4 separate regions of the Homo sapiens genome follow, and regions 2, 3 and 4 are each linked to region 1. Evidence: fine-mapped expression QTL. A gene starts in region 1. Each other region holds a variant in brackets. All regions are shown on one strand. Distances are between the middles of the regions. Region 1 holds the start of ACP3 (acid phosphatase 3). Region 2 holds the start of LOC124909435 (a long non-coding RNA gene). Region 3 overlaps ACP3 (acid phosphatase 3). Region 4 has its middle 27 kb from the start of ACP3.

Region 1 (8,111 bases):
AGTTACCCATTCCAGTATATAGATTATGTGCTGAGAATTTGGAGGCTGCTTCCATCAAGAATATCATATTATGCCAGGCGCAGTGGCTCACGCCTGTAATCTCAGCCCTTTGGGAGGCCAAGGCTGGTGGATCACCTGAGGTCAAGAGTTCAAGACCAGCCTGGCCAACGTGGTGAAACCCAGTCTCTATTAAAAATACAAAAACTAGCCAGGCATGGTGGCACACGCCTGTAATCCCAGCTACTTGGGAGGCTGAGACTGGAGAATCACTTGAACCTGGGAGACGGAGGTTGCAGTGAGCCAAGATCACGCCATTGCACTCCAGCCTGGGCGACAGAGTAAGACTCTGTCTCAAAAAAAAAAAAAAAACCCAAGAATATTATATTACTTGATTAAGAATTCTGCATGAAGAAAGTCAACCATGAAGAATGAGAAGAGTGTATACCTTGTAAGTCATCATTCCTTTCTTAACACCGGTGAAATGAGATGGAATTTTTCTGTCTTGGATCAGCTGAACTTGTGGGTTTTCTCTGGGTTAGGGGAGACAGGATGCTTTAAAATGACATTTTTCTATTTCTGGATGATATGGTGCATGAAATAACTTAAAAAACTCAAGTGGGTGTGTGTGGGAAATGAGTGGCTATGCAGATGAAACAAGATTGCATGGGTGATAGTCTTTGAAGCTGGTTGATGAGGACATCCAGATTCACCATATTTACGATTCTTTCCATATAAAGTTAAAAATGTCAGTTCTCTCAGTGTTTTCTACAGGACATTGGGGAAAAAAAGAGGGAGGTGAATGCTGTAATCAAAATTTTGAAAACAGAGTTTGGAAAACACTAGATCCTTTCCTTGAAAGCCACAGTGCGTATTAGCATGTTAAAGACTTAGGATTACTGCATTAAAGAGACCTTTTAAACACAGTTTAACCCAGTTCTATTCCCAAAGCTAACTTGACTATTGAAACTGATTTTTTCCCCATGTACACCTGTTAACAACTTGTCAAACTAGCATTTCATGGGTCACAGGCACTTCAGTTAGTCCGAGAACAAGAACCAAGGACAGTTTCCTCCTCTTTCTGCTGAGAACAGCTTTTCAGAATTGGGGAGGATTTATTTTTCTCGGATCACAGAGGAAAAGCAAGGGAACCACCTGCTGATTCAGAGTCAAGCTAATCCAGCAAACCTTACAGGGGGATCTCAGACTAGCTCCATGTGCTGGGTTATATACACACAGCAGGAAAAGACCATGTCTAGTGATAAAGGGAAAGGCATCCGGGGTCAGAGAGCCTGGGTTCAAATTCTGTCTCCACCATTCCATCTGTGTGACCATGGGCAAGATGCTTAACCTTTTTGTGCCTCAATTTCTTCATCTATAAAATAGGAATAATAAGTTTTACAAAACTTTATAGAATGGTTGCCAGATTTGGCAAATAAACATACAGGATGCCCAAATATTGCATGGGACTAAAAAATTATTTGCTATTTATCTGAAGTTCAAATTCAAATGGTCATCCCATATTTTATTTAACGACCTTATTTTAGAGGATTGTTGACAGGCTTATGTGATACAATTCATATTGAACACTCAGAACAGTGCCTTGTAAGCACTCAATTGCAGTAAGTACTTGCAGTAAGCACTCAATTGACTATTGGTTATTATCATTAATATTACCACTTTAGTTATGGGCATCTTTTAAAACAATTCTGGTTCTCCTAATAATTTTCTAAGAGTTATCTCATTTGTATAAATTAACCACTTATAGTCAAATATTCTCTTTAGTCAATAAAAATAAGAAACTGATGTTTATTGGCTTAAGTACTTAGATGGACGTTGTTTTATAAGGGCCAAGAAAGATGTATTAAATGGCCCTTCATCTACCATTAATGGAAGGAAATCATGGTAGGAAAAAATAGTTAACACTGGCTTTGTGCAATATTTGTTAATTTTTTTAGTTCTAAGAGAGCTAGCTTTGTATTTTGGCTTTCCTCAGGAAAGAATTAACTTGCAGTCCCTGAATATAGGAAACCCACAACAATTTGGTAGTCAAAGGAAGTTAGCCTGGGCTAACTTGGGTAAAACATGGAGGAGGGAATACATCATGTACAGTGAGCTTGGAGTAACTTGGATTTCTCAGAGGACTGCCACTCAACCAGCTTGTCACAGGTTTACAGTATTACAAGCACGGCAGATGCAGTACAATTTCTACAGTCCCTAAACTTGCCTCATGCACATGTTAGCAAGAAAACTACTGATAGAAGTACAAGCCTAGCTCACATGGGTTTCCCTAAAGAAGGCACACAGTATTATATATTTTTTTTCTGCACAGAAGTCTGACAGCTGGTGAATCATTTGTAAATAAATTGATAGTTTGTTTCACTGGGTTTTCTGTCATTGTTGACTCATGACCTAGTAAGGATTTACTGGACTATAAGAATAATGATTCAAATAAGCACATGGGTATCATATTTTCTGTAGAAAGTAAAGAGCTTTGAATATCCCATGCTGAAAAAAAAAAAAGCCTGAACTTTAATTTTTAAGGAAACAGTGACTTTCCTTCAAATTATAAAAATAATTTTTGAGTATTCTTGACAGAAAGAAAATTTACCTACTTATCAGCCCACTTTCACTATCTCAAATAAAAAAATGTAGGGAAGAGAAAGAAAACGAGAGAGGAAAGGCAAGAAGCAGCTTAGAGGCTTAGAGGCAGAGAAAGAGTGAAACAGAAGGAAAAAAAGATACAGAAACAGAAAATCAGACTCTTAGGTAACATGATGAATCCCCTTCACTTTGCAAACCCTCTTTCCATCTATTTTCAAACAATGTCAACAGTATATTTTCTTTTCTTGATATTATGCATCAGCCACCCCCCACCTTTTTTCATAACTGGTCACATGTGCCAATGATTTTAATCGTCAACTAAATCTATATATCAGAAAATCATCCTAAAATTCCAAATTTAGATTCACTTTTATGCTTCAAGGTTGTTTACAAATAGTTGTTCTAATTTCCTGATAAACAAAGGTGAAAGGACTACTTAATTCAGAAAATGACTGTTTTTTGGCTTGCAAACAAATAATGATTAAATTGAATGAAGCCAGCTCTTGGTACATAAACAGCGCCAGCTGTGGTTTCTTCTGGACTGGTGTGGCTGTCAAAAGGAATCTGAATTCAAGGCAGTTGTAAAGTAAGTAAATAAATAACATCAGCAAAAGCAAATAAAAAGCAACCCCTAAAAAAACAGCGACCAAAAAATATTTTTGTTAGGACACGTTAGGTCTTCATTAAGAGGAACTTGCAAAACTTGATTATTCACTTTCTGAGTTTGAACAGAGCCTGGTCTCTGGGAAACAATCCAAGGATAAGATGAAACCTGACGCTTGCCTTATCAGACTTTGCTGGGAACACAGTTTTAAGGAAAAAGCAATGAGAAAAGTCTACTTACCAAAGTCACAAACTTCAACTCCTTGGCTAGTACACTTCGGTCTAGCCAGAAAAAAAGCAGAAACAAGAAGCCAAGGCTAAGGCTTGCTGCCCTGGCCAGGAGGAGGGGTGCAGCTCTCATGTTGAGGAGAGCTGTTTCTGGCAGGAGTTAGGAGGAACTGCTACCACTTCAAAAGCCTGTAGAGGGGAAGCTATTTAATTAAGGGATTGAAAGGGAAGGAGGAGCCACACTCATAAGTAGTAAAGTTTCCAGGAAGCGTAGGGCAGGTTTGGTATGTAAATAATGTCATGTAAATTTTGAGCTGAGAGAGATCACAGTTTCCCCATTTAAGTTAGGACACCAAGGCCAAGAGCGGGGAAAGCTGTTGATCAAGGTCACAGAGCATGTTAGCAGACATTTCTATCCTTGTTTTCAGTTTACTTTTATCTTTGTTTTTTGTTTTTTTTTTTTTGAGACAGAGTCTTGCTCTGTCATCCAGGCTGGAGCACAGTGGCACAATCTCAGCTCACTGCAAACTCCGCCTCCCAGGTTCAAGCAATTCTCCTGCTTCAGTCTTCCTGAGTAGCTGGGATTACAGGCGTGCACCACCACACCCGGCGAATTTTTGTATTTTTAGTAGAGACGGGGTTTCACCATGTTGGTTAGGCTGGTCTCCAACTCCTAACCGCATGATCCGCCTGCCTTGGCCTCCCAAAGTGCTGAGATTACAGGCATGAGCCACTGTGCCAAGCCAGTTTACTTTTATCTTTTCTTTAGATAGGGTATGATACAGCGTTGGATTTGTGGCTGTCACTTGGGAAAGGGATCTACCCTGACTTTAGAAACCTTAGACCAGTGATTCTTAATCTGTTGGGAGTCCAAAGTTATAGGACTGAAATCTGGAAGGAAATACAGGTGTTGACATATTTGGGGCCTATTTCCATGCCAAACATGGCTACTTTTTCAAAAACTCTCATGTAGCCTATAGAGGTATTTTTAAATTAAAGAAGAAAAGTAACAGCAAGTTTATTTTGAAAAATTTTAGGCTGGGCGTGGTGGCTCATGTCTGTAATCCCAGCACTTTGGGAGGCCGAGGTGGGCAGATCACTTGAGGTCAGGAGTTAAGACCAGCCTGGCCAGCATGGTGAAACCCCATCTCTACTAAAAATACAAAAAAAAAAAATTAGCCTGGCGTGGTGGCACATGCCTATAGTCCCAGCTACCTGGGAGGCGAGGCAGGAGAGTCACTTGAACCCAGGAGGTGGAGGTTGCAGTGAGCCGAGATTGTGCCACTGCACTCCAGCCTGAGTGACAGAGCAAGACTCCATCTCAAAACACAGCAAAACAAACAAACAACAACAAAAAACAAACAAAAGAAAAATTTTAGTCACACCTTAAGACAATTGGACATTACCTGTGGTATCTCAAAATTAGATTGGAGGTCCCTTTCCAAACCTGACAGAGTTTTTTAAGAAAGCAAAAAGCCCAAACCTACAATTCTATATTATTAGTCATCAACTTTGGCCATAAGCCTTAAATTTTGAGTGAGTTACATCCTTGCCTCTCCAGCTATGATCTCACTGGGGACACTACAAAAGGCGATCCAGACTGATGGAACTTTGCTTTCCATTTTCCCCAACCTGTCAGTTCCATCATAGGCTAAAACAATACAAACTTGAGGTGCACATTGAGATTTTGCAAGATTTGGGGGCAGAGCTGCCTGTCATGATATTTCTATCATAATGGCAGAGGGAGAACAATGGTTTACCCGCAACCTGTTTCCTGGTACATTGCGCTTACCTGTGGCAGGAGGATTGTGTTCTTATGTGATCATAGGATGCCCTGGAATGTGGTATATGGGAGAACTGTTCCTTCTTCCGGCAGTAGGAAACATGCGCAAATAGGCTGGGCATGGTGGCTCACGCCTGTAATCCCACCACTTTGGGAGGCTGAGGTGGGCAGATCACTTGAGATCAGGAGTTCGAGACCAGCCTGGTCAATGTGGTGAAACCCCATATCTACTAAAAATACAAAAATTAGCCAGGTGTGGTGGTGGGAGCCTGTAATCCCAGCTACCTGGGAGGCTGGGGCAGGAGAATCACTTGAATCCGGGAGGCTGAGGTTGCAGTGAGCTGAGATCACACCACTGCACTCTAGCCTGGGCAATAGAGTGAGACTCTGTCCCCCCTCCAAAAAAAAAAAAAAATGTGCAAATAATAAATGCATGTGTGATTAGGATTAACCATTCAAGGGAACTTGCAACTTTCTCTTTGCCATCACATTCTCGACCTGCCAGTCTACACTGTCAATTTTAATGAGTAAGATTTTGAGGAAATGGGTGCAAGAAAAAGGAAATAAAAATTGGGAGGTTTTCCAGTCCAGGGCATACATGAAGTTGATACATTAATCCCTGCTGTGTGCACCAGGCAATCTGAGAAAGGAAGCTCCAGCACCTATGTACCATTCACAGGCAAATTTCTGAACCACATTTCTTAAATTGTGCCAGATGTCTGCTTCTATTGAATGCCTTATTTTCTCAGCTATCTGCCTGGGTCCTTGTTCTATCTCCTTCCTTGTCTCACCCTTGGACTGGTGCTTGGAACTATTTCAGCAATAGCCTTAGACCTTCCTGATAATGAAGACTGATTTTATAATCTACCTATACCATGTTGCACTGGTTGGATAAACCCTCTTTCTGACCTAGACCCTAATTTTTTCTGTGGTACCGCCTGTGGGGTCCTTTTAGCTCTTCAAGTGAGAAGGGCAACAACAACAAAGTTTTCTTTGAAAACCAGAAAAAGCCTGCTTGAATTGAATACATCTCAACTCAAACTTAATCCAAGTTGAATTAAATGGTTTATACTTCTATCTCAATCATCATCCTCACTTCCACTTTGATCATTCAGTTATAAGGGGAGAAGAAGTATTCAAAGTCATAAATGTAGAGTCTTGAAAAACCTGAACACCATGAAATGGAGTGTAAAAGATCCTCAACTCAGATGAAACCTGTTTTAGAATGTTCTGTGGCACCTTGAACTTTGAACTCAATAAGGTCTTTGCAAAGACATAAGGGTCATCTGGGATAAATATATGGATATAGTATGTATTAGTCCACGTTCATACTGCTTTGAAGAAATACCTAAGACTGGGTAATTTATAAAGAAAAATAAATTTAATGGACTCAAAGTTCCACATGGCTGGGGAGGCCTCACAATCATGATGGAAGGTGAAGGAGAAGCAAAGGCACATCTTACATGGCAGCAGGCAAGAGAGTGTGTGCAGGGAAACTGCCCTTTATAAAACCATCAGATTTCATGAGACTTAATCACTGTCACAAGAATAGCATGGGAAAAGCCCTCCTCCACGATTCAATTACTTCCCACCAGGTACCTTTCATGACATGTGGGGATTATGGGAGTTACAATTCAAGATGAGATTTTTGTGGGGACACTGCCAAATCATATCATAGTAACATCAAAAGTGAGATTTGAAAAAACACTGGGAAGTCTTTATGTAAGAGTTTAGGGTGTCAATAATTTTCCATGATTAGTAGGACTTACTGACTGAATCACTTGTGTTCTCTTGTTGTACTTCTTTCTCTATATGTCAAGTGCTCAACCTCAAATGAACTGTTCTAATGAACAGTTAGAAAGTTCCATAAGTGGAGCAGGTTAGGATTTTTGAAAATCAGACTCCCAGATAGATATTTGCATGTAGGAAGTTTATTAAGGAGTGCACTCAGGATTAACTCCAGTGGTGGGTAGAGAAATAACCAAGGTTGGGCAGAGGGAGAAGTTGATTTGTAATGCAATATTGTTGAAGATGTCAGCTGACCCTGTTACAAGTTCTGAAGATAGGAGGGCCTTTCAGGGTTGTCTTGAATTGAGGTGAGGAGCCAGGCCTTTTTTATTAGCCAGTCATTGGACGTAGTCTGCCCCTGGTAGGGAGTATGACCATGGATAAGGCAAAGGTGACTCTCTTCTGCCAAAATAATTCCCAAAGGGGTTGCTAGCTGAGTGATGTCAAACAAATTTCCAAGAGCTAGGAGCAATGAATCCTTGGGCAGTGTAACACAGAATCTATGATGATGAACACTTATAGGAAAAAAATTGTGATCCTTAGTAGATCACAGCCTATGAAAGCACTAAATATGCCTCTGACCATAAGAGTCTGAGTTGGGAGGTGAGATCCATCAGTAAGTATATGGCTGTTCACCAGCATCACAAGGAAGACTGTGTTTAACCTGTCTGGCTTCTTATGGCCTTCATAATTGTATTATTTGACTCTCAGGGCCTTATGAACTATTGGGTACTCAATAATACTGATTGACCAACTGTCAATATAAATGCAAATGACTGCATCAGAGCCCTGTTACAATGTGAATTGCTTTGAGGCAAAATTTAATAAGATGGCTTTAGAATAAATGTTCTCCTCTTCTCAAACCATCATTTTGTGGAGGGCCTTTTTGCCCTCGGCATAAAATAACTATTTTATTGTTTAGTATTTAGACAAACATCCCCCATAAAACCAAAGACTGTATCATAAGAATGTCATCAACTAAGGTGTGTGTACCTAGGGGATTCATGCAATGGTCTAACACTTTAAAAAGTAAAGAAAGTGTTAAAACTTTTATTTCTGTTTATTTTTTTACCTAAGAAAGAAAAAAAAGATTTACAATGGAAATTTA
Region 2 (8,111 bases), 57 kb before region 1:
ACAAGGTCCAAGATTAATAAACCCAAAAAACTGAGCCCAGAGAAAACAGATAATTTAGGGAGCAGAGGAGAACTTGAAAAAATTATTAGTATCCTTAAAGATTTTCAAGAGGAGATTGCACTGATAAAATAATGAGGCTGCCAGGTGTGGTGGCATGTGCCTGTAATCTCAGCTGTTTGGGAGGCTGAGGCAGGAGGATCCCTTGAGCCTAGGAGTTTGAGGCTGCAGTGAGCTGTGATACTGCCATTGCACTCCAGCTGGGGCAACAGAGTGAGACCCCATTTCTGAAAACAGACAAACAAAAAACAGCTACGGTGAAAAAAAGAACAGTCAGTAAATACCAAAGAAAAGAATACTCGTAAGTAAAACAGGAATAATGGATTTGCTGACGACCAAGTTGATGTTCTGGAAAACGAAATTTACTGGAATGTAGAGAAATAAAATAAATGGTGGAAAATATGAGAGAAAACTCAAGGCATGGAGGATAGACCCAAGAAATTCAAGTTCCAGAACACAATTTTTCTTAGTTGGAGAAAGACAAGTGTCTTTAGATGGAAAAAAATCATATCAGCCATACAGAATTAGACAGAAAACAAACAAAAACCCAAAATACCCATGCCTAAACACAACCTGGTGAAATTTCAGAACTCTAAGCTAAAGAGAATATCTTAAAAGAATTAGAAAAAGCAAAACAGATTACTTACATTGGAATGAGAATCAGACTGATAGACTTCTCATCAGCAATCCTGTATGCTGGAAGACAGCAGAATACCGCCTTCAAAGTTTTGGTAGAAAATGATTTTCAGGGGGAGGAGCCAAGATGGCCGAATAGGAACAGCTCCCGTCTACAGCTCCCAGCGTGAGCGACGCAGAATACGGGTGATTTCTGCATTTCCATCTGAGGTACCGGGTTCATCTCCTAGGGAGTGCCAGACAGTGGGCGCAGGCCAGTGGGTGCGCGCACCGTGCGCGAACCGAAGCAGGGCGAGGGCCTCACTCGGGAAGCGCAAGGGGTCAGGGAGTTCCCTTTCCTAGTCAAAGAAAGGGGTGACGGACGCACCTGGAAAATTGGGTCACTCCCACCCGAATACTGCGCTTTTCCGACAGGCTTAAAACACGGCGCACCACGAGATTATAACCCGCACCTGGCTCGGAGGGTCCTACGCCCGCCCACGGAGTCTCGCTGATTGCTAGCACAGCAGTCTAAGATCAAACTGCAAGGCGGCAGCGAGGCTGGGGGAGGGGCGCCCGCCATTGCCCAGGCTTGCTTAGGTAAACAAAGCAGCAGGGAAGCTCGAACTGGGTGGAGCCCACCACAGCTCAAGGAGGCCTGCCTGCCTCTGTAGGCTCCACCTCTGGGGCCAGGGCACAGACAAACAAAAAGACAGCAGTAACCTCTGCAGACTTAAATGTCCCTGTCTGACAGCTTTGAAGAGAGCAGTGGTTCTCCCAGCACGCAGCTGGAGATCTGAGAACGGGCAGACTGCCTCCTCAAGTGGGTCCCTGACCCCTGACCCCCAAGCAGCCTAACTGGGAGGCACCCCCCAGCAGGGACACACTGACACCTCACACGGCAGGGTATTCCAACAGACCTGCAGCTGAGGGTCCTGTCTGTTAGAAGGAAAACTAACAAACAGAAAGGACATCCACACCAAAAACCCATCTGTACATCACCATCATCAAAGACCAAAAGTAGATAAAACCACAAAGATGGGGAAAAAACAGAACAGAAAAACTGGAAACTCTAAAAAGCAGAGCGGCTCTCCTCCTCCAAAGGAACGCAGTTCCTCACCAGCAACGGAACAAAGCTGGATGGAGAATGACTTTGACGAGCTGAGAGAAGAAGGCTTCAGAAGATCAAATTACCCTGAGCTACGGAAGGACATTCAGACCAAAGGCAAAGAAGTTGAAAACTTTGAAAAAAATTTAGAAGAATGTATAACTAGAATAACCAATACAGAGAAGTGCTTAAAGGAGCTGATGGAGCTGAAAACCAAGGCTCGAGAACTACGTGAAGAATGCAGAAGCCTCAGGAGCTGATGCGATCAACTGGAAGAAAGGGTATCAGCAATGGAAGATGAAATGAATGAAATGAAGTGAGAAGGGAAGTTTAGAGAAAAAAGAATAAAAAGAAATGAGCAAAGACTCCAAGAAATATGGGACTATGTGAAAAGACCAAATCTACGTCTGACTGGTGTACCTGCAAGTGATGGGGAGAATGGAACCAAGTTGGAAAACACTCTGCAGGATATTATCCAGGAGAACTTCCCCAATCTAGCAAGGCAGGCCAACATTCAGATTCAGGAAATACAGAGAACGCCACAAAGATACTCCTCGAGAAGAGCAACTCCAAGACACATAATTGTCAGATTCACCAAAGTTGAAATGAAGGAAAAAATGTTAAGGGCAGCCAGAGAGAAAGGTCGGGTTACCCTCAAAGGGAAGCCCATCAGACTAACAGCGGATCTCTCGGCAGAAACCCTACAAGCCAGAAGAGAGTGGGGGCCAATATTCAACATTCTTAAAGAAAAGAATTTTCAACCCAGAATTTCATATCCAGCCAAACTAAGCTTCATAAGTGAAGGAGAAATAAAATACTTTACAGACAAGCAAATGCTGAGAGATTTTGTCACCACCAGGCCTGCCCTAAAAGAGCTCCTGAAGGAAGTGCTAAACATGGAAAGGAACAACCGGTACCAGCCGCTGCAAAATCATGCCAAAATGTAAAGACCATCGAGACTAGGAAGAAACTGCATCAACTAACGAGCAAAATCACCAGCTAACATCATAATGACAGGATCAGATTCACACATAACAATATTAACTTTAAATGTAAATGGACTAAATGCTCCAATTAAAAGACACAGACTGGCAAATTGGATAAAGAGTCAAGACCCATCAGTGTGCTGTGTTCAGGAAATCCATCTCACGTGCAGAGACACACATAGGCTCAAAATAAAAGGATGGAGGAAGATCTACCAAGCAAATGGAAAACAAAAAAAGGCAGGGGTTGCAATCCTAGTCTCTGATAAAACAGACTTTAAACCAACAAAGATCAAAAGAGACCAAGAAGGCCATTACATAATGGTAAAGGGATCAATTCAACAACAAGAGCTAACTATCCTAAATATATATGCACCCAATACAGGAGCACCCAGATTCATAAAGCAAGTCCTGAGTGACCTACAAAGAGACTTAGACTCCCACACATTAATAATGGGAGACTTTAACACCCCACTGTCAACATTAGACAGATCAACGAGACAGAAAGTCAACAAGGATACCCAGGAATTGAACTCAGCTCTGCACCAAGTGGACCTAATAGACATCTACAGAACTCTCCACCCCAAATCAACAGAATATATATTTTTTTCAGCACCACACCACACCTATTCCAAAATTGACCACATAGTTGGAAGTAAAGCACTCCTAAGCAAACGTAAAAGAACAGAAATTATAACAAACTGTCTCTCAGACCACAGTGCAATCAAACTAGACCTCAGGATTAAGAAACTCACTCCAAACCACTTAACTACATGGAAACTGAACAACCTGCTCCTGAATGACTACTGGGTACATAACGAAATAAAGGCAGAAATAAAGTTGTTCTTTGAAACCAACGAGAACAAAGACACAACATACCAGAATCTCTGGGATGCATTCAAAGCAGTGTGTAGAGGGAAATTTATAGCACTAAATGCCCACAAGAGAAAGCAGGAAAGATCCAAAATTGACACCCTAACATCACAATTAAAAGAACTAGAAAAGCAAGAGCAAACACATTCAAAAGCTAGCAGAAGGCAAGAAATAACTAAAATCAGAGCAGAACTGAAGGAAATAGAGACACAAAAAACCCTTCAAAAAATCAATGAATCCAGGAGCTGGTTTTTTGAAAGGATCAACAAAATTGATAGACCACTAGCAAGACTAATAAAGAAGAAAAGAGAGAAGAATCAAATAGACACAATAAAAAATGATAAAGGGGATATCACCACCGATCCCACAGAAATACAAACTACCATCAGAGAATACTGCAAACACCTCTACGCAAATAAACTAGAAAATCTAGCAGAAATGGATAAATTCCTTGACACATACACTCTCCCAAGACTAAACCAGGAAGAAGTTGACTCTCTGAATAGACCAATAACAGGATCTGAAATTGTGGCAATAATCAATTGTTTACCAACCAAAAAGAGTCCAGGCCAGATGGATTCACAGCCGAATTTTACCAGAGGTACAAGGAGGAACTGGTACCATTCCTTCTGAAACTATTCCAATCAATAGAAAAAGAGGGAGTCCTCCCTAACTCATTTTATGAGGCCAGCATCATTCTGATACCAAAGCCGGGCAGAGATACAACCAAAAAAGAGAATTTTAGACCAATATCCTTGATGAACATCGATCCAAAAATCCTCAATAAAATACTGGCAAAACGAATCCAGCAGCACATCAAAAAGCTTATCCACCATGATCAAGTGGGCTTCATCCCTGGGATGCAAGGCTGGTTCAATATACGCAAATCAATAAATGTAATCCAGCATATAAACAGAGCCAAAGACAAAAACCACATGATTATCTCAATAGATGCAGAAAAAGCCTTTGACAAAATTCAACAACCCTTCATGCTAAAAACTCTCAATAAATTAGGTATTGATGGGA[A/T]GTATTTCAAAGTAATAAGAGCTATCTATGACAAACCCACAGCCAATATCATACTGAATGGGCAAAAACTGGAAGCATTCCCTTTGAAAACTGGCACAAGACAGGGATGTCCTCTCTCACCACTCCTATTCAACATAGTGTTGGAAGTTCTGGCCAGGGCAATTAGGTAGGAGAAGGAAATAAAGGGTATTCAATTAGGAAAAGAGGAAGTCAAATTGTCCCTGTTTGCAGATGACATGATTGTATATCTAGAAAACCCCATTGTCTCAGCCCAAAATCTCCTTAAGCTGATAAATAACTTCAGCAAAGTCTCAGGATACAAAACCAATGTACAAAAATCACAAGCATTCTTATACACCAACAACAGACAAACAGAGAGCCAAATCATGAGTGAACTCCCATTCACAATTGCTTCAAAGAGAATAAAATACCTAGGAATCCAACTTACAAGGGATGTGAAGGACCTCTTCAGGGAGAACTACAAACCACTGCTCAAGGAAATAAAAGAGGATACAAACAAATGGAAGAACATTCCACGCTCATGGGTAGGAAGAATCAATATCGTGAAAAAGGCCATACTGCCCAAGGTAATTTACAGATTCAATGCCATCCCCATCAAGCTACCAATGCCTTTTTTCACAGAATTGGAAAAAACTACTTTAAAGTTCATATGGAACCAAAAAAGAGCCCGCATCACCAAGTCAATCCTAAGCCAAAAGAACAAAGCTGGAGGCATCACACTACCTGACTTCAAACTATACTACAAGGCTACAGTAACCAAAACAGCATGGTACTGGTACCAAAACAGAGATATAGATCAATGGAACAGAACAGAGCCCTCAGAAATAAAGCCGCATATCTACAACTATCTGATCTTTGACAAACCTGACAAAAACAAGCAATGGGGAAAGGATTCCCTATTTAATAAATGGTGCTGGGAAAACTGACTAGCCATATGTAGAAAGCTGAAACTGGATCCCTTCCTTACACCTTATACAAAAATCAATTCAAGATGGATTAAAGACTTAAACATTAGACCTAAAACCATAAAAACCCTAGAAGAAAACCTAGGCATTACCATTCAGGACATAGGCACAGGCAAGGACTTCATGTCTAAAACACCAAAAGCAATGGCAACAAAAGGCAAAATTGACAAATGGGATCTAATTAAACTAAAGAGCTTCTGCACAGCAAAAGAAACTACCATCAGAGTGAACAGGCAACCGACAAAATGGGAGAAAATTTTCGCAACCTACTCATCTGACAAAGGGCTAATATCCAGAATCTACAATGAACTCAAACAGCTTTACAAGAAAAAAACAAACAACCCCATCAAAAAGTGGGTGAAGGACATGAACAGACACTTTTCAAAAGAAGACATTTATGCAGCCAAAAAACACATGAAAAAATGCTCATCATCACTGGCCATCAGAGAAATGCAAATCAAAACCACAATGAGATACCATCTCACACCAGTTAGAATGGCAATCATTAAAAAGTCAGGAAACAACAGGTGCTGGAGAGGATGTGGAGAAATAGGAACACTTTTACACTGTTGGTGGGACTGTAAGCTAGTTCAACCATTGTGGAAGTCAGTGTGGTGATTCTTCAGGGATCTAGAACTAGAAATACCATTTGACCCAGCCATCCCATTACTGGGTATATACCCAAAGAACTCTAAATCATGCTGCTATAAAGACAGATGCACTTGTATGTTTATTGCGGCATTATTCACAATAGCAAAGACTTGGAACCAACCCAAATGCCCAACAATGGTAGATTGGATTAAGAAAATGTGGCACATATACACCATGGAATACTATGCAGCCATAAAAAATGATGAGTTCATGTCCTTTGTAGGGACAGGGATGAAATTAGAAAGCATCATTCTCAGTAAGCTATCGCAAGAACAAAAAACCAAGCACCGCATATTCTCACTCATAGGTGGGAATTGAACAATGAGATCACACGGACACAGGAAGGGGAATATCACACTCTGGGGACTGTTGTGGGGTGGGGGGAGCGGGGAGGGATAGCATTGGGAGATATACCTAATGCTAGATGATGAGTTAGTGGGTGCAGCGCACCAGCATGGCACATGTATACATATGTAACTAACCTGCACAGTGTGCACATGTACCCTAAAACTTAAAGTATAATAAAAAAAAAAAAGAAAAAAAAAGATTTTCAACCTGAATATACCCAGCCAACTAATAGGTAAGTGTGAGGGCACACTGTAGACATGTTTAGATGTTAGGATCAGAATGCTTACTGTTCATGCATCTTTTAAAAAAATTGCTTCAGGGAAATAAAAAAAGAATACAAGAAAGAGGACACCATGGGTTGTAAAAGAAGGGAAAGATGTGAAAATTTCAGAAAATAAAAGTATGTTTTATAAAATTAATGCCTCTCCTTTGAAGAAATAAAACCAGGTATTGTTGACAGGATTGCCACTAGTGATTGAAACTGGTTAGGAAGACCTTTCACTTTGCATTTTATACTCTTCTGTATTATTGTATTATCTGCATTTATTTTTGTTTTGAATACAGATTACTTGCAGTCTTCTTTTTTTTTTTGAGGCAGAATCTCACTCTGTCACCCAGGCTGGAGTGCAGCCGCACAGCTTTGGCTCACTGCAACCTCTGCCTCCTGGATTCAAGCAATTCTCATGCTTCAACCTCCTGAGTAGCTGGCATTATAGGCGGGCGCCACCATGCCTGGATAATTTTTGTATTTTTAGTAGAGACGAGGTTTCACCATGTTGGCCAGCCTGGTCTCCAACTCCTGGCCTCAGGTGATCTGCCCACCTCAGCCTCCAAAGTGTTGGGATTACAGGCATAAGCCACCACACCTGGCCCATATTATCTTTTAATCCTGCTGTCAGAGACGTGTGAACCAGAGCAACTCCATTTTGAGTGAGGGCTAGCAAAATGAAGCTGGGACTTGCTGGGCTGTGTTTCTAGAAAGTTTGGTATTCCTAGCCTCTAGATGTTTATGGTTAAAGGAACAAATTAATAATGTTTACTGAAGAGACCCAGACTTGGGAGTGTCCAGATCAAAGGCATTTCTAATTTTGCTTTAAAGATAATAATGTTAATTCTTGCAAAATATAGTAATTAATAAATCAATCCTTTATCACAAACCCTTGTGATACAAATACAAAAATTTGCTGGGCATAGTGACACGGGCCTGTGATCCCAGCTATTCAGGAGGCTGAGGCAGGAGAATTGCTTGAACCCAGGAGCCAGAGGTTGCAGTGAGCTGAGATCACGCCACTGCACTCCAGCCTGGGCGACAGAGCAAGACTCTTTCTCTCAAAAAAAAAAAAAAAAAAAAAAAAAAAGATGATATGGAAAAAGTGTTGTGAAAGCTCTTACTTTTACATTCTACCAACCCTGTATAAGGTCGGTGTCAGAGTCAAGCAATTAATAATCACAATTGGGGTGGAC
Region 3 (8,111 bases), 25 kb before region 1:
CTACAACAACCTCATGTCGTTAATGGCCACTGTCCTAAATTTTTTGCCCCAACCTACTTTATTCATCTCACATGAATTTGCTCCTGACCATCCTGGTTTCATACCTCATTCCCCTGGTTACAGCTTGCCTCACTCTTTATACCTGGTGTGCAGCCCTGCTTTTCTAGCTATAATTGATTCCTTTTCTGGTCAGTGATTTGAATTTTTTCCCTAGTTAAGTAGCCTCAGTGAACAACCTCCCAGTCTGGTCCAGCCCTAATATGCTTTGCCTCTATGCATTCTCTTGGGATTTTGATGGACTTGTCCTGATGCTGTGGTGAATAGTGTCTGTCAATGGCTGGAATCATGATGTGATTGTATTAATCTCAAAATGCCTTGAATATGTGTGTCAGCCTGACTTGGACCATCTCCTGTGGCTTGGACTTTCCTCATTACGTCAACCTGACATGATGAACTTTCTCTTCTTCTTTATCCCTAGTTTTAATACCTATGATAACCACATCTAAGTCTGACACCTCATTTGGTATCTTGGCCTGCCCATCCAGTTTCTCTCATAAGCCCCAACATCTGTCCTTGTCTTTGCTGGTCCTGACTTTTTTCTTCCATCCACTTATCCTGATTACAAGAATCCAGCATCCTCTTGCCTGGGTCTGCCTTCATATGACAGGGTGTCCTGTGCTACGAAGAGCCAGTTCTAACCAAGAAGAGGCATCACTGATAAATAAATCTCAACAGCTTTCAATGTCAATGAAAAATTTCAAGCTGTGTTATAAACTTGTCAATTGCAACATATTTTAACAGCACATAATTGGTCTGAAAAATATAACAATTAGCCTGAAAAATATATTTTATCGGCTTTCACAATGACTACCACTCAGGGTTTCAGGAAAACAGGCCACTTTTGTCATACCTCCCACTTGAAAAATTCATCATATAGGCCACAAGACACAATTGATTTTCATGTGGCTCAGACACAGATCCTTGATTTTTGATCTGGAGGGGATGGAAAGGATCATTTAGCTTTAGCTTTCATTTTCCAGATAGAAAACTAAGGGCTTGAGTGAGTAATAGTTATGATTATACTAACATATGACATTTATTGACAGTGTATTATGTACCAGGTACTGTTTGCTCTAAGCCATTTGAATACATACATTCATTTTAATACTCACTGTCTATGAAGTAGGTATCATTAATATCCCCATTTTGCAGAATGGAAGCTGGTGCAAGAGTGATTAAGTGAACTGTCTGAGATCACACAGTTGATTAGTGGAGGGAATGACTCAGACCTGGATCATTCAACCACAAATCCAATATGCTCCTCTCATTTTTTAATACTTACCCCCTTGGAGCCTAGATTTCTCTTTCTGCTTGTGAATTCCATAGAGGGACAGGAGGGACAATTCTGACAATTCTCTCAACTTAGTCATGGTGTCCTCAGTGGCCCAGGAGGGTAAAGTGAAATTGTGAACACTCTGTAGCAAAGAAAAAGGAAGAAAAATGTATGTGTATTTATATGACTGTCCTCTTTGTTGACTTATCCTTTTTCACCTCACAAGAACTAGTAGGGCCAGACTTTCTTGTCCTGCCATTTCTTTCTAAAAGAACTTCATATTGTGATAAGTAGTGGTATTGACTTTCAGAAGAAAAGCTTATATAAATGAATTTACCCATTCCTACCCAGTCCATAGCTTTTGGTTTAACTCTGGATCAGTGGGTGGCTCATATTTTGCAGAGTAAGGGTGCAGTAGGGAAATAATACCTCATTCCTTTATGAAAGGGTTAGAAATCTTTCTATGAACCTGACAGAGTTAAATGATATTTCCTTAAAAGCTGAATGGGCTGCCTGAGAGGCCAGTTAGGAAAGGCAATATATTTCTGGAGCCTTCAGTAATATATTCTCCCCTACCCCCATCAAGGTCTAGTTTGCTGACTTTTTTTTTCTTTTTTTTTTTTCAGAGACATTGTCTTGCTCTGTCACCAAGGCTGGAATGCAGTGGCCATCACAGCTCACTGTAACCTCAAACTCCAGGACTCAAGCAATCCTCCTACCTCAGCCTCCTGAGTAGTTGGGACTATAGGTGCATGCCACCACACGTGGCACTTTTTTTTTTTTTTTTTTTTGAGACAGAATCTTGCTCTGTCATCCAGCCTGGAGTGCAGTGGCACGATTTCAGCTCACTGCAACCTCCACTTCCTGGGTTCAAGCGATTCTCTTGCCTCAGCCTCCCGAGTAGCTGGGATTACAGGCATGCGCCACCACACCCGCCTAATTTTTGTATTTTTAGTAGAGATGAAATTTCGCCATGTTGGCCAGGCTGGTCTCGAACTCCTGAGCTCAGGCAATCCGCCCACCTTAGCCCAAAGTGCTGGGATTATAGGCATGAGCCACTACACCTGGCCACACGTGGCTAATTTTTAAAAGTGTTTTGTAGAGGTAGGGCCTCATTATGCTGCCCAGGCTCATCCTGAACTTCTAGCCTCAAATGATCCTCCCATCTCAGCCTCCCAGAAGTGCTGGGATTACAGGCAGGAGCCACCATACCTGGCTGTAGTTCACTGACTCTTGAGGAAAGCCTGCACCTTGCACACAGTGGATACTTGGTAAATATGCGTTAAATGAATGGTTAAGTACAAGCAGGGCAGGTGAGACCTTGTGCCAATATTTATTACCCGTTAGGAAGAGTTGATTAGGAGTCCCCCAGTTTCAAAGGCAGGATTAAGAGTGAGAGAAAGTGAGTTCGTGAAAGAGGAGACCAAAGTGGAGTGACCTACAGAGGAAATAAGTGAGAGAGATTTGGAAAAAATATCACATGACATGACCACATTTTGGAATAGCTCAGATCAAACTGTAGTAAGGAAGAAAAAAAAATTATGACTGGAACAAAAATGGGGGCTCTTGTTTTCACTGAAGAGTCTTTTACAATGCTAATGAATTTTCACTGAAATAGTTGCTGATGATTAAGTGAAAATACTGGGAAAGTAGCATGTGATTGGGTCAATTAACTTTAGGATGGATGGAGGCAAACTGTGTCATCTGTTATTAAGATAGAACTACGGAAGTAATTGCTGCCCCCCAGACTCTCACGATGACCTCAAAGTTAGAAGTCAATATGAATTAGGTGGGTGGTCAGAATCTTGCCCCATATTTAGTGAGCTAGTTGGGAAAACAGGAACAGAGAGTACTCCTTTTGGCCAGAAGGTGGAGCATGGTGAGTGAGAAACACCATGTAACCTTGAAAAGCAATCGTAATTTATCTGGCCACAAACGGTATTTCAAATGCATCGCAAAGCAAGAAAGAAGTTCTTTCTTGTTAAGCAAATATAAATAGCCTGGCTTATATTTTGCTTGTTTATTTCTACATTCGGAAATCAGGTAATTTTCCCCTCTTTCTTTATAACAACATTGTTTTTTCATTAAGACCAAGGACAGGAACCCAGCATTTTTGAGTGGCTGCAAAATAAATAAGCTCCTACTGAATCCAAGGGGGGAAAAAACTAAAGTGGAAACTCATAGAAGAAAAGCAATTTTGCTTGTAATTTTCTAAAGGGTGAAAACATAAATAATAATAGAGAGAAAAGAGAAGTCAGCATTTTCAAGTTAATATAAGGAAGTTGTGAATTACGTTTCAATGTCAAAAGAAGTATAAGTAATACATTCATAAAGAAGTGAAAGAAAAGATATTCATCTATTTCAAAATAAGCATAAATCATAAAATCAGATTGCAAGTTAACCTGTGATTTTTTTTTCTTTTACCTCACAATATAAAGGGTC[GTAGACTTTACTCC/C]AAATTCCAAAAAGGTCCTGGCCATGTAATCCTGAAAGTTTTCCCAAGGTAGCTATAAAATCCTGAAACACAAACAGAGAAAGAAAAATTCCTACACAGGTTTCTCAGCTTCAGCATTATTGATATTTTGGGCCAGACAATTGTTTGTTGTAGGGAGCTCTCCTGTGCATTATAGGATGTTTCACAGTATCCTGGCCTCTGCCCACTAGATGCCAGTAGCATTCCTAATCTCCCACTTGTATAACCCAGAATATCTCCCGACATTGCCAAATGTTCCTTGTGAGGCAAATGCGCCCCTGTTGAGAACCGCTGTTCTTCACAGAAAAATGCACCAGTAATATTGGTTACGATAATGTCATTCCAAAGAATTTTACAAACACGAATTGATTATTCCTTATTATTACATTTAAAATGTAGATAGATGCTGGCTGACTGCCACATGTTCCTGGTTCGTGCTGGAATTGGATTGAAGTGTACTGCCTCAGATTCTTTTTAGAAGTGGGTAAAGTATAACTCATGTGTAAATATGTCCCAGGTGAGAAAGGAAAGCATATTTCAGGCCAAAGCATCCTGGAACATGCAACACAAATAGGGCTTGGTCTTTGGCTATACATATAAAACTTGGATGGAATGCAAATCTTTCGCTAGGTTCTGTATGTTTCTTGGAATGTCGCAATAATGAGACCCAATGTTCAGCTATCTGACTGCTGAAATTGGCAGCCATTTCTGGGAAGCCTTTTTGGAAGATATTGTCTGTCTGATGGATGAAATTTCTAGGGAACTACAATTTGCCAATATTAACCTCAATAGATTTTCATAAAATAATAGAAATTATTGTTAAAGAGCTCCTACTGCCATCTTCTCAAACATAAAAGCTCCAGGGCCAGATGACTGTCATAGAGGAATTCTACCAAGCTTTTCAAGAGTAAATTATTCTAATGCTATTTTAACTGTTCTGGAGCATAGAAGATGAAAGAAAACTTTCAAAAACTTCTTATGAATTAAGTGTAACACTGATACTGACAAAGATTGCCCCCAAAATAAAACTATTAGTTCAATGCCACTTGTAAATATCAATGCAAAAGGTGTAAGTAAAATAACAGGAAGTAATTCAATGTCACATAAAAGGAAATGGGTTTGATTTGAGAAATATAAAGATTGTTCAACATTGGTAAATCTATGAATGTAATCAATCATTGTAATTAATCCAAGGAGAAAAATAATTTGATTGTATTAAAAAATGTTAAAACAATCATTCAGGAGATTAAACAACTAATATTGATTTAAAAAAATACACTCAAGAAAATAAGAAAGGTGGATATTTCCTTAATTTCATAAAAATATGTCTATTTTGGTTCAAAAGCCTGTATGCTTATTAGGAAAACTCCTCTAAAATCAGAAATAAGACAAGAATACCCGCTACCAACACTGCCCATAACATTATACTGTAAGTAGTGGCCAGTGCAAATAGGCAAAAGGAAGAAATCAGAGATACACATTTTTGAAAACTGGAGATACTGTAAACCTGAAACAAACTTAACAAAAAATGTAAAGACATATATGAAGAAAACCCTAAAATAATCTTTAAGATAAAACAAGTAGGAACATGTACCATATTCTTAGGAAGATTTGACAGTGAAAAGTTGCAAATTCTCCCTAAGTTAAATAAATTTAATATGATCCTAATGAAAATACTAAAAATTAAAAAATACTTTTGGAACTAGACAAGCTGACTCTGAAGTTCACAAAGAAAATTAAAACATAGCCATGGAAACTCAGAAAAAGCAATGAGGGATGACTAGCCCTTTAGATATTAAAGCATATTATAAAGTCTTAATAGTTAAAACCCAAGTTTTGGCTAATAAAAAATTAAACAGAATAAAAATTACATAAATAGACCCCACACCTATGGGAATTTTAATATATAATAGCTTCAATAAGTAGGAAAAAAATGAACTATTCAATAAACAATGATGGAGCAATTAGATAATCTTCCAGGAAAAAACTTAAACAGGATACCTTCTACCAGTATGAACTGTAAATGAATTCAATATATAAATGAGAAATGAAGCTAGAGTGGAATTAGAAGAAAGCATTGCAGACTTCCTTTATAACCTAGGAGTGGGGAAAGCTTTTCTAAACATGACTCAAAATATAGAAGCCATATAAGAATACATTGATACAGAACCTACATGGCAAGAACACGGTAAGCAGTTAATAGACAAACTTTTTTTTAAAAATGCCATTCATTATCTATGATATTGTGAAATATATATTTGGTCTTTTTTTTTTTTTTTTGAGACGGAATTTCGTTCTTGTTGCCCAGGCTGGAATGCAGTGGCGCCATCTCGGCTCACTGCAACCTCCGCCTCCTGGGTTCAAGTGATTCTCTTGCCTCAGCCTCCTGAGTAGCTGGGATTACAGGCGCCTGCCACCACGCCTGGCTAATTTTTTGTGTTTCTAGTAGAGACAGGGTTTCACTAAGTTGGCCAGGCTGGTCTCAAACTCCTGACCTCAGGTGATCACCCACCTTGGTCTCCCAAAGTGTTGGGATTACAAGCGTGAGCCACTGTGCCCGGCCTTCTATTTGGTGTTCATCTCCATTTTCTGCCATAGAATTCCTAAAATCCTTGGAGTCTCCAAAGTATGTCTTTTTGCATGCTAATGATTGATTGATGGCTGGCAGTCCCTGGCCAGCTTCAGGATGGGGGTTGGTCACCAGAAAGCCAAGGCCGGGATTAGAGCGTTGGGACTTTCAGCCCTACTTCAGAACCTCTGGGGAGGGGAGGGAGTTAAAATTTAAGTTGATAGCCAATAGCCTGTGGCTTAATCAATCATGCCTATGCAATGAAATCTCCATAAAAAGCCCAAAGGGAGAGGGTTCAGAGAGCCTTCAGAGAGCTGAACACTTAGAGGTTCCTGGAATGTGGTGGTCCTGAAGAAGGCAGGCAAGCTCCTTGACCTTTTCCTTATATCTTTTGTAATATCCTTTGTAATAACCAATAACTGTGTTTCCCTGAGTTCTGTGAGCTGCCCCTGCAAACTGATCGAACCCAAAGAGGAAGTTGTGGGAACCCCAACTTAAAGCCAGCCTGTCAGAAGTTTGGAGGTCTGGACTTTCATCTGTGTCTGAGGTGGCGGGTTGGGGGTGGCCAGTTTTGGGGCCTGAGCCCTCAACCTGTAGGATCTGATGCTATCTCCAAATAGATGGTGTCAAAACTGAATTGGAGGCCACCCAGCTGGTGTCTACTGCAGAACGGGCTGCCTTTTCTTGCAGAGAGATCCCCCATATTTGGTCACAGAAGTCTTCTGTCTGTGTTGATTGGTGTTTTCAAGTGAGAAAAATAGGAAAAAACACATTGAGTGTGTTTTTTTTCACACACAAAATATCACAGACAGAAATGTTAAAATACATAGAAAAAAGCTTCTAAAAACTTATAGCAAAAGGAAAATCAATCATCCAAAAGAAAAATAGTCAAGGGATATTGATATAAAAGGAAATATAAATGGCATTTAACTGATGAGAATACACGGACACATAGAGGGGAAGAAGACACACTGGGGCCTCTTGGAAGGTGAAGGGTGGGAGGAGGCAAAGGGTCAGGAAAAATAACCAATGAGTACTAGGCTTTATACCTGGGTGATGAAATAATCTGTACAACAAACCCCCATGACACATGTTTACCTATATAACAAACCTGCATTTGTACCCCTGAACTTAAAATAAAAGTTAAAAAAGAAATACAATATCAAAAAACAAACCAAAAAATGGTATTTAACTAGATGAAGATACCCAAACTCACTCATCACAAGAAGAAAAGTACTATAGCACGATGTTGTACAGTAGTTATAATAGTGAGCTTCCTTGTCTTATTCCTAATTTTAGAGGAGATGGATGCTTCTAGTGATATTATTTTCCACTTACCAGATTGGCAAATATCCCCAGAGTGGTCCACATACTGTTGGCAAAGTTGTGGAGAAATGGGCATTTGCATGCAGTGCTGATAGAAGTAGAAAGTAGTAAAACCTCTTTGGAGGGTAAATTAATAATATTTCAGATTAACCCAGAATGTCTACTTCTAGGATATTATCCCACAGGTATTCTTGTGAAACTATTTAGATGCACAAGTTATTCATACATGCTGTTTGTAAAAATGAAAGATTGAAAAATGACCCATATTCCTATCAATAGGGGCTGGTTAAATAAATTATGGCATAAATATAAATATTACACATTTGTTAAAAAAAAGGAAAAGAAAGAAAAGGAGGAAACTCTTTACATACAGATATAGAAATATTTCCAATATATTTTCTTAAATGGAA
Region 4 (8,111 bases), 27 kb after region 1:
CACACACACACACACACTTTGCTGAATACATCATCTAAGATAAATATACCCTCCTTTAGGAAGTATGGCAATATATTATCCTCAAAGGGGAATTACTGTAAGAAAAAATAGAACCCTTTGTGATGCTTAATGGGAAAAGCTTTGTGATAAGGCATTAAGGCATCCTCTGTTATGTCATAGTAAAAGTAGTAATGTTTTGGCATCCCGAAACATCCTAAATATATCCATTTTATCTCATTTCATTCTTCTTTTTTACATAATAAACTTAATAGAGTTGACAAGAGTGGAAACTGAGCAACCTGACATTCATACTCTTTATCTGAAACTGCTTATTAGAAATAATGTTGAAGAAAGAACTGGTATTCTTAGCATGAGAAAAGCAAAAATACTTCTGTAACATAATTTTGGATATTATATAGATACAGGAAAGAAAAAGATTTTTATACTCCCTATTTTGGAAAATGAAGTAGTGGCTTTCTTTTCTCATCTGTTTAAAATTAAACAATTAAATAATAATTATTGTGGTAATGTACAGACATTAGTGGATTTGACCAGTGATATGGTTTCTACTTGTTTCCCTGCTCAAATCTCATGTCTGAATTGTAATCACCAATGTTGGAGAAGGGGCCTGGTGGGAGGTGATTGGATACTGAGGGTGGACTTCCCTGTTGCTGTTCTCATGATAATGAGTGAGTTCTCATGAGATCTGGTGTTTTAAAAGTGTGTAGCACCTTCCCCCTCACTCTCTTTCTCCTACTCCCACCATGTAAGATGTGCCTGCTTCCTCTTTGCCTTCTGCCATGATTGCAAATTTCCTGAGACATCCTCAGCCATACTTCCTGTACAGCTTGTGGAGCTGTAAGTCAATTAAACCTCTTTTCTTTATAAATTACCCAGTTTCAGGTATTTATAGCAGTGTGAGAATGGACTAATCACACCAGATTATAAAGCTGCATGAATGTTTCAATCAGAAAAGTCTTTAATTCAAAAGGAAACCACAGGAATCACTATTTATTGACCACTTCTTCTCAGTCTCAGAAAGCCTGATAGGAGACTAGGGTTCTGTAGCTGGAGAGTTTTAAAGTTAGTGCTGCTTCCAGCGTAAGGTCAAGAGTCATAAAATATACCCCAAAATATCGGTTGCTAAAATATGCCAATTACTTGATTTAAAAAATACCTCAGCCTATAGAAAGTCTATCAAAAATATGTAATTGATTAATGTGCTTAGTACCACGTTTTCACTTTACAAAATTATTTAATCCACAAAACAATGACTCACATCAAATGACTACCAGTCCACCTTTCTCCAAGTTCCCTCTGGGACAGAGTTACTGTGCTTAATCCTAAATCATCAAATCCATTGTACCTAACTCTGTGGAATGTTTTTTTCTGAGTTAGTTTATTTAGTTGAAGAATTACTATAAGGCAGTGATTTTCAATGTGTTGCTTGGGGGTCCTGAGACCCTTCAGAGGGCCCCTGAGACTCCTTCAGGGAATTCCTGAGATCTAGTCAGGGGGCTTGTGGGGTCAAAGTATTTTCACACCGGCCAGGCGTGGTGGCTCATGCCTGTAATCCCAGCACTTTGGGAGGCTGAGGCAGGTGGATCATGAAGTCAGGAGTTTGACACCAGCCTGACCAACATGGTGAAACCCTGTCTCTGTTAAAAATACAAAAATTAGCTTGGCATAGTGGCACATGCCGGTGGACCCAGCTGCTGGGGAGGCTGAGGCAGAAGAGTCACTTGAGCCCGGGAGGCAGAGGTGGTGGTGAGCCGAGATTGTGCCACTGCACTCCAGCCTGGGCGTCAGAGCGAGACTCCATCTCAAAAACAAAACAAAACAAAACAAAACAAAAAACGTTTCACACCAACACTAAAATATTATTTTCTTTTTTATTCTCATTCTCTCATGAAGATTCACTGGAGTTTCCCAGAAGCTATGTGATGTGATGACATCATTACTCTCATGACAAATTGAATGTGTGCTTATGTATTCTTGTGTTTTAAAATTTTTTCAGTTTTAATTTTGAATATTGTAAGTATCAGTAGACACAACCCATATTAACTAAAGCTGTTAAGGATCCTCAATAATTTTTAAGGGTATAAGGGGGTCCTGAGACTAAATGTTTGAGAACTATTGCTATAGATAAGCTAATGATTCAAATGTTTTATTCATTCAACAAACATTTGTTGATTTTCTACTATGAGCAGTCCTTGGGAATGCCAAGGTTGAAAGACAAAGTCCCTGCCTCAAGGAGAATACTATGTTGTAGGAAAAGATAAACAATTATGAGATAAATCCAACAAAACAAGCACAGAATATACGGTTGCTCAGAAGAGAAACATTCATTTAATCATTTATTAACCTGGTACTTAGATCAATGAAAAAGACATGAAGGCATGAGGGAGCATGATGTGTCTAGGGAATTGCAAATGGTTTGATGGGGATATCTTGATGGTAATTAATTTCTTTAAAAAATAGCTCATTTCTTTAGCTATTATTGGTTATTTTGCTGTTGCTGTTATTATTATTGGATCATATTCAAAAGGATCCACTGAGTGCTATGTTGTAAATGTTTAACAACTGGCTCTGAAAAAAAGTTATAATTTTCTATAATTTGCAGCATTTTTCAATTTCCATGGTGAAAATACTCCTACTATGGCTGATTTGAAGCTACCAACATGATGTGACTTTACATGGAGGTGGAAAGAGACGGGCACACCATTATACAATATTCCCATTATGCAGACACAAGTGAAAATAACTTCAAGAGCATAAATAATAAAATGCAGTAAAATAATTTGTAAGTGATGAGTTTTGAGTATTCTTACCTTCATTTTAAATATAATTTATTTTAACATTTAATTTTTAGTAATGGCTGCATTTAACAACCAGTTGGCAAAATTACTGAAAGTTTAACAATTGGTTATTGTAAACCAGTACAAACTGGCTCCAGCCCACCACTGGATCTACTATAACATTAGTAATACATTGTTAATTATGCTGTTACTACAGTTTCCTCGTTTTGGAGGAGGAGGAATATGGGACATCCTAACTGAGAGACAGATGGGTAATTGTAAAACTCCAGTTGTG[G/C]GTGTGGTTGTGAGATGATGTGGGTGGCAGAGGAAGTTGTGCAAGAGCTTCAGCAAAAGGGTAAGGAATGGCAATTATGAAGGCAAGGTCAGAGAGTGAACACCAGATGTTTCGCCTTAGAAGAGAAAGAGAGGAAGAGAGGACACTATTTATGGAGTGCCTACTGTATGTTGTGCATGTGCCAGTCTCATGGCACGTTGTATTTCATCTAATCCTCATAACATACTTGAAAGGCAGATAGCTAAGTAGCACTGTGTAAGAAGACAAACTCAGGTCTGGCTAACTCCAAAACCGTTATTATTATTTATTTATTTATTTTTGAGACGGAGTTCCGCTCTGTCACCCAGGCTGGAGTGCAATGGCATGATCTTGGCTCACTGCAACCTCTGCCTCCCGGGTTCAAGTGATTCTCCCGTCTCAGCCTCCTGAGTAGCTGGGATTACAGGCACCCACCATCATGCCTGGCTAATTTTTGTATTTTTAGTAGAGATGGGTTTTCACCATGTTGGCCAGGCTGTTCTTGAACTGCTGACCTCAGGTGATCCACCCACCTCGGCCTCCCAAAGTGCTGGGATTACAGGTGTGAACCACCGCACCCAGCCAAAATCCTTATTCCTTTGATGTTATCAAACAAAGCTAGAAAGTTTACAAGAGAGTGGAATAGTGGTATCTAGAAGCAGAAGCCAAGGAGACAAATATGGAGGCTGGGGGATGTCACCAACAGCACAAGATCACAATGTATTGGACCTGGGAAGGTAACTGCTGGACAAGTCAATCTTCAGCATTCTGAAACAGCTTCCTACAAGGAATGTCTATGGCCATCGACAGAGAGGACATCCTGTTATAATGAAAGAGAATTCCCCTCTCCTTTTTCAGGAAATGCGAAGAGCTATGTGAACGTACCTTCAGCATCACAGGGATCAATGCCATAGTTAAAGGAATATGTTATAAGTAAAGCGCTTGAATTCAGAGCCATAAACATCTGATTTATGGTGGTCTATACAAAATTCCAACAAGAAAGGAGGAGGAAAGTTCCCAGGGAGATGTTTCTTCTCTCTGCTTTATTTCAATCATAGCTGCTATTAATGGTCTTCTTCAGCTTCTTCTCTCTGTTTTCCCTTCAATAGACACAAACAAGTTATTGCTGTGGACCCATAAATTATTGATCTTCCAGAAGTCTCCCCTCCTTCCATTGTACCTGCATCTCATGCTTTCTTCCTCACACCAGCCCCTAGACAGCATGAGAGCTGTTGGCCTTGCCCTGCACTTGGTTAGTGTGCTGGTTGGCTCCTCCAGAAAGCAAATGCCAAGACAGTTAGAAGGGCACTCAATTTAGTAGGAGTAATGGCTGATAAAGGAGTAGGGAGGGAAAGCCTTCAGACTATAATGCAGGTCCAATAACTGGGAAAGGAGAGTGGGAAGAAGGAGGATTGGGTCCGGAGAGCCTCAGATTAGTGCAACCCAGAGAAAGACAGCCTGCAAAATGGGGGCTCCAGTGCAATAGAGGAATCTTGAGTGGGGCAAAAAATGTTCAGGCCTGGTACCCCTGCCATGCTTAGTCATCTGGAGCTACCAGAAAAGAATGTGGCCTCAGGTCAAACACTAGAGTAGATCCCAAAGGCACTGCAGCTGGAGGATGTCAGCTAACTGCTCTCCTTGGAATTTATGGGCAAGTTTGTTTTTGAAAGCATATCTGAGGATCACACCTCCCTGGTTGTTTCTGTGAAGGGCATTTTTTATATTCTTGGCTTGGCATTGATGGGAGGAACAGTGGGGTCTCAGTCTAGGTAATGGGCTCCTGACCAGAGTCCCCTTCTCAGCCTCCAATGTTGGAACTTTCTTTGAAGCCTGTTGTCCACTATAGTATTCAGGATTCCTTTGGAGGCAAGTAACAGAAATCTAATCTAATCTGATTCATTTTAGGCAAGGAAAATAATTTTTTGCTTCATGTTACTGAACAAAAGAAAGGGAAAAGATCAGTGGGAACTTGGAATAAAACTGCCACTGACGTTCATCTATTCCATTCTTCTTTGCTCCCTGTTTGGCTTCAATTTTGTAAACTATGTATCTTTCCAATTGAAGCTAGGGCCAAGGCTGCTCTAAGCTTCACCTAAGAAGAAAGAGCTCTTCTCCTTCAATTTCAGTTGAAAAAACCTGGTTTTTATTTCCATGCCTATTGCCTCATATTCATTCATCCAAAAAAATATTTATGGAGTGCCTATATGTGTCGGGCACTGTTCAAGGTTCTTACAATGCTGAAGTGAACAAAATAGACAAGTTTCTTTTTAAAATGAAATATATTTTAGCAGAGAGAGATAGTAAACGAGTAACCAAATAAATAAACAGGATAATTTCAGATAATGATGAAACCATCCCTATAGACTTCAGAAAGTTAATCAGAGTAGAAAAGAGGGGGAGAAATAAAAATAAAGCAAGATCGCAGCACATTCACCATTAATCATGAGGTCAGCTTACTCTCTGACCTGCCTACTAAGAGTTATTCACTGCCTGTTACCCCAGAATCACACAGACCTGTCACCACTTAACTGTTCTGTAGATAACAACTTAAACATTGTGAAATGTTGTTTTCCATTTGAGATATTCTTTCAGGTCCTGCATACCAGTGAAACTATTGATGTCAACTGGTCTGAGGGACCTCACTGAGGCCCCATGAAAAGCTGACTTAACAAAGAATGCAATTTCCACATCCTGATTATTTCATTACGCTTACCTGACCAATTAATGACCTCAATTTTCTAGGCCCTTGCCCTCCATGATCCCCTTAAAAACCCCAGCGCAGAACATCTTGGGGAGATGGATTTGAGTCTCCTCCTATCTTTTCACTTGACCACTCTGCAATCATTAAACTCTTTCTCTGCTGCAAACCCTGTTGTCTCAGCCTATCAGTCTGATACTGCACAGCGGACATACAAACCCATTGGTCCTGTAACAGTGAGAACTACAGTGAAGACAATAAAATAAGGTGACATGACTGTGAGTGACTTGAGGTGGGGGATACTTTAGATGAGTGGTCAGAGAGGGTTTCTATGAGGTGACATTTGAGGTGAGACTTGAATGCAGGAAAGGGGAGAGCCATCAGAGCATCCCAGGAAGTGTAAAAACCCTGAGGCAGGGAGTGAGATTGTGGTCTCAGAGGAAAGAAAAAAGGCCAGAGTGACTGAAGAATTGTAAAAATGGGAAAGGGCAGGAGCAGACAAGGTCAGAGAGGTAGGAAGGTGTTGAATCACCCAGGATCTTGTTGAGGCCATGGTGAGGAGTTTGGATTTATTCAAAATGCAATGGGAAGCCAAATGGGGAGTTCTAATCAGGGGAGTGATATGCATTAAAAATTCTGTGGCTGCTTGTGAAGAATGAATTATGGAGAAGCAAAAAAGGGAATGAGAACAGCCAGGAGGCTACTGTAGTGGCCCAGGAAACAGATGATTGTAGCTTGGATCAGGGTGGATTTGGGGAAGTCAAAAGAAGTGAATGGACGAGAAAAATACATACTAGTATTGGATATGAGATGTGAGGGAGAAGGGTGAGAAAAGGAAAAAAGGAAAATAGCTCAGAGCAGTCTGAGCTATGTGAGATATGCAGAATTTATCAGGCTCAGAGAAACATGAGTATGGGACTTCAGTCACCTTCTCCGCTATGTCTGGGACAATTGTTTAAAGGTATTTTGTTCTTGACTAGCTGCTACATCCATTTTCTTCCTGTTTTTGTGATACAAAGAACAATATATAGCCAATCATTAGCTTATGTTATTTTAATGTAAATTCTTGGTAAACAACTTAGGAACTGCCTCTTCTTTTACTCCTTAAAACTTCAACTAGTAACTGCTACTAATCAGGGTGTATATTTATGGCAACTTGAATCTATGCCCCCATGTGGCCATCCTCAAGCTTTGGACTCCTATAAACTCTATACTTAATTTTTCTGGTCCTCATTATTTAAGGCTAACGGGAGAATCAAGGGGCACTCCTAGGCATTGGGCTTCAGAAATTGGGTGAATGGCAACAAAAGTGTCAGACACAGATGATGAAGCTTCAGAGAGACACAGGTTTATCTTATTCATTTAAGACATACTTTTATATCTCTTACTATCCTGGTTCTCAACCTTAGCCTCACACTGAAGTTACCTTAGAATTAAAAAAATAGGCTGCGTGCAGTAGCTCATGCCTGTAATGTTAGCACTTAGGAAGGCTGAGGTGTGAGGATAGCTTCAGCCCAGAAGTTCAAGATCAGCCTGGGCAACATGGTGGAAGCCCCATCTCTACAAAAAATAAACAAAGGTAGCTGGGTGTGGTGACTTTCCCCTATCTATAGTCCCAGCTACTCAGGAGGCTGAGGTGGGAGGATGGCTTGAACCCAAGATGGCTGCAGTGAGCCATGATTGTGCTGTTCTTGGATCTCACGCAAGAATTTGAGGCATATCCATAAAGTGAAAACAAGTTTATTGAGAAAGTAAAGAAGCAAAAGAATGGCTACTCCATAGGCACAGCAGCCCCAAGGGCTGCTGGTTGCCGATTTTTATGTTTATTGATTATATGCTAAACGAGGGGCGAATTATTCATGAGTTTTCCAGAAAAGGGGTGGGCAATTCCTAGAACTGACAATTCCTCCCCTTTTTAGACCATATAGGGTAACTTCTTGAAATTGCCATGGCATTTATAGACTGTCATGGCACTGCTGGGCATATCTTTTAGCATGATAATGCATTATAGTTAGTGCATATAATTAATGTACATGTCTTTGTGACCTGTACTTTGTGCCAACCTTTTATCTGATCCTGTGACTTAGAATGCCTAATCTCCTGGGAACGCAGCCCAGTAGGTCTCAGCCTTATTTTACCCAGCCCCTTTTCAAGATGGAGTTGCTCTGGTTCAAAGGCCTCTGACAATGCCACTGCACTCCAGCCTGGCTGATAGGGCAAGAGCCTGTCTCAAAACAAAATAACAACAATAAAACCCTGTGCCTAATTAGTTATTAGAGAATTTTTTGGAGATTTTAATTTA

Evidence for each region.
Region 2: its variant is fine-mapped to the expression of ACP3 in whole blood (INTERVAL, PIP above 0.99).
Region 3: its variant is fine-mapped to the expression of ACP3 in whole blood (TOPMed, PIP above 0.99).
Region 4: its variant is fine-mapped to the expression of ACP3 in blood mononuclear cells (TOPMed, PIP above 0.99).

The regions. Positions count from the first base shown.
Region 1 is chr3:132,312,911-132,321,021 of GRCh38, reverse strand. ACP3 (acid phosphatase 3) reads right to left here and starts at 3,615. Exons shown (of 10, transcript NM_001099.5): 1 at 3,446-3,615. The coding sequence starts at 3,565.
Region 2 is chr3:132,369,956-132,378,066 of GRCh38, reverse strand. It overlaps LOC124909435 (a long non-coding RNA gene), which reads right to left and starts at 1,278. Exons shown (of 2, transcript XR_007096093.1): 1 at 705-1,278. The variant A/T (reference allele first, on the strand shown) is at 4,663.
Region 3 is chr3:132,338,291-132,346,401 of GRCh38, reverse strand. ACP3 (acid phosphatase 3) reads right to left here. Exons shown (of 10, transcript NM_001099.5): 6 at 3,758-3,850; 7 at 1,343-1,475. Among named protein-coding and RNA genes, the nearest start is that of ACP3, 25 kb to the right of the region's middle. The variant GTAGACTTTACTCC/C (reference allele first, on the strand shown) is at 3,776.
Region 4 is chr3:132,286,084-132,294,194 of GRCh38, reverse strand. No RefSeq gene overlaps it. Among named protein-coding and RNA genes, the nearest start is that of ACP3, 27 kb to the left of the region's middle. The variant G/C (reference allele first, on the strand shown) is at 3,094.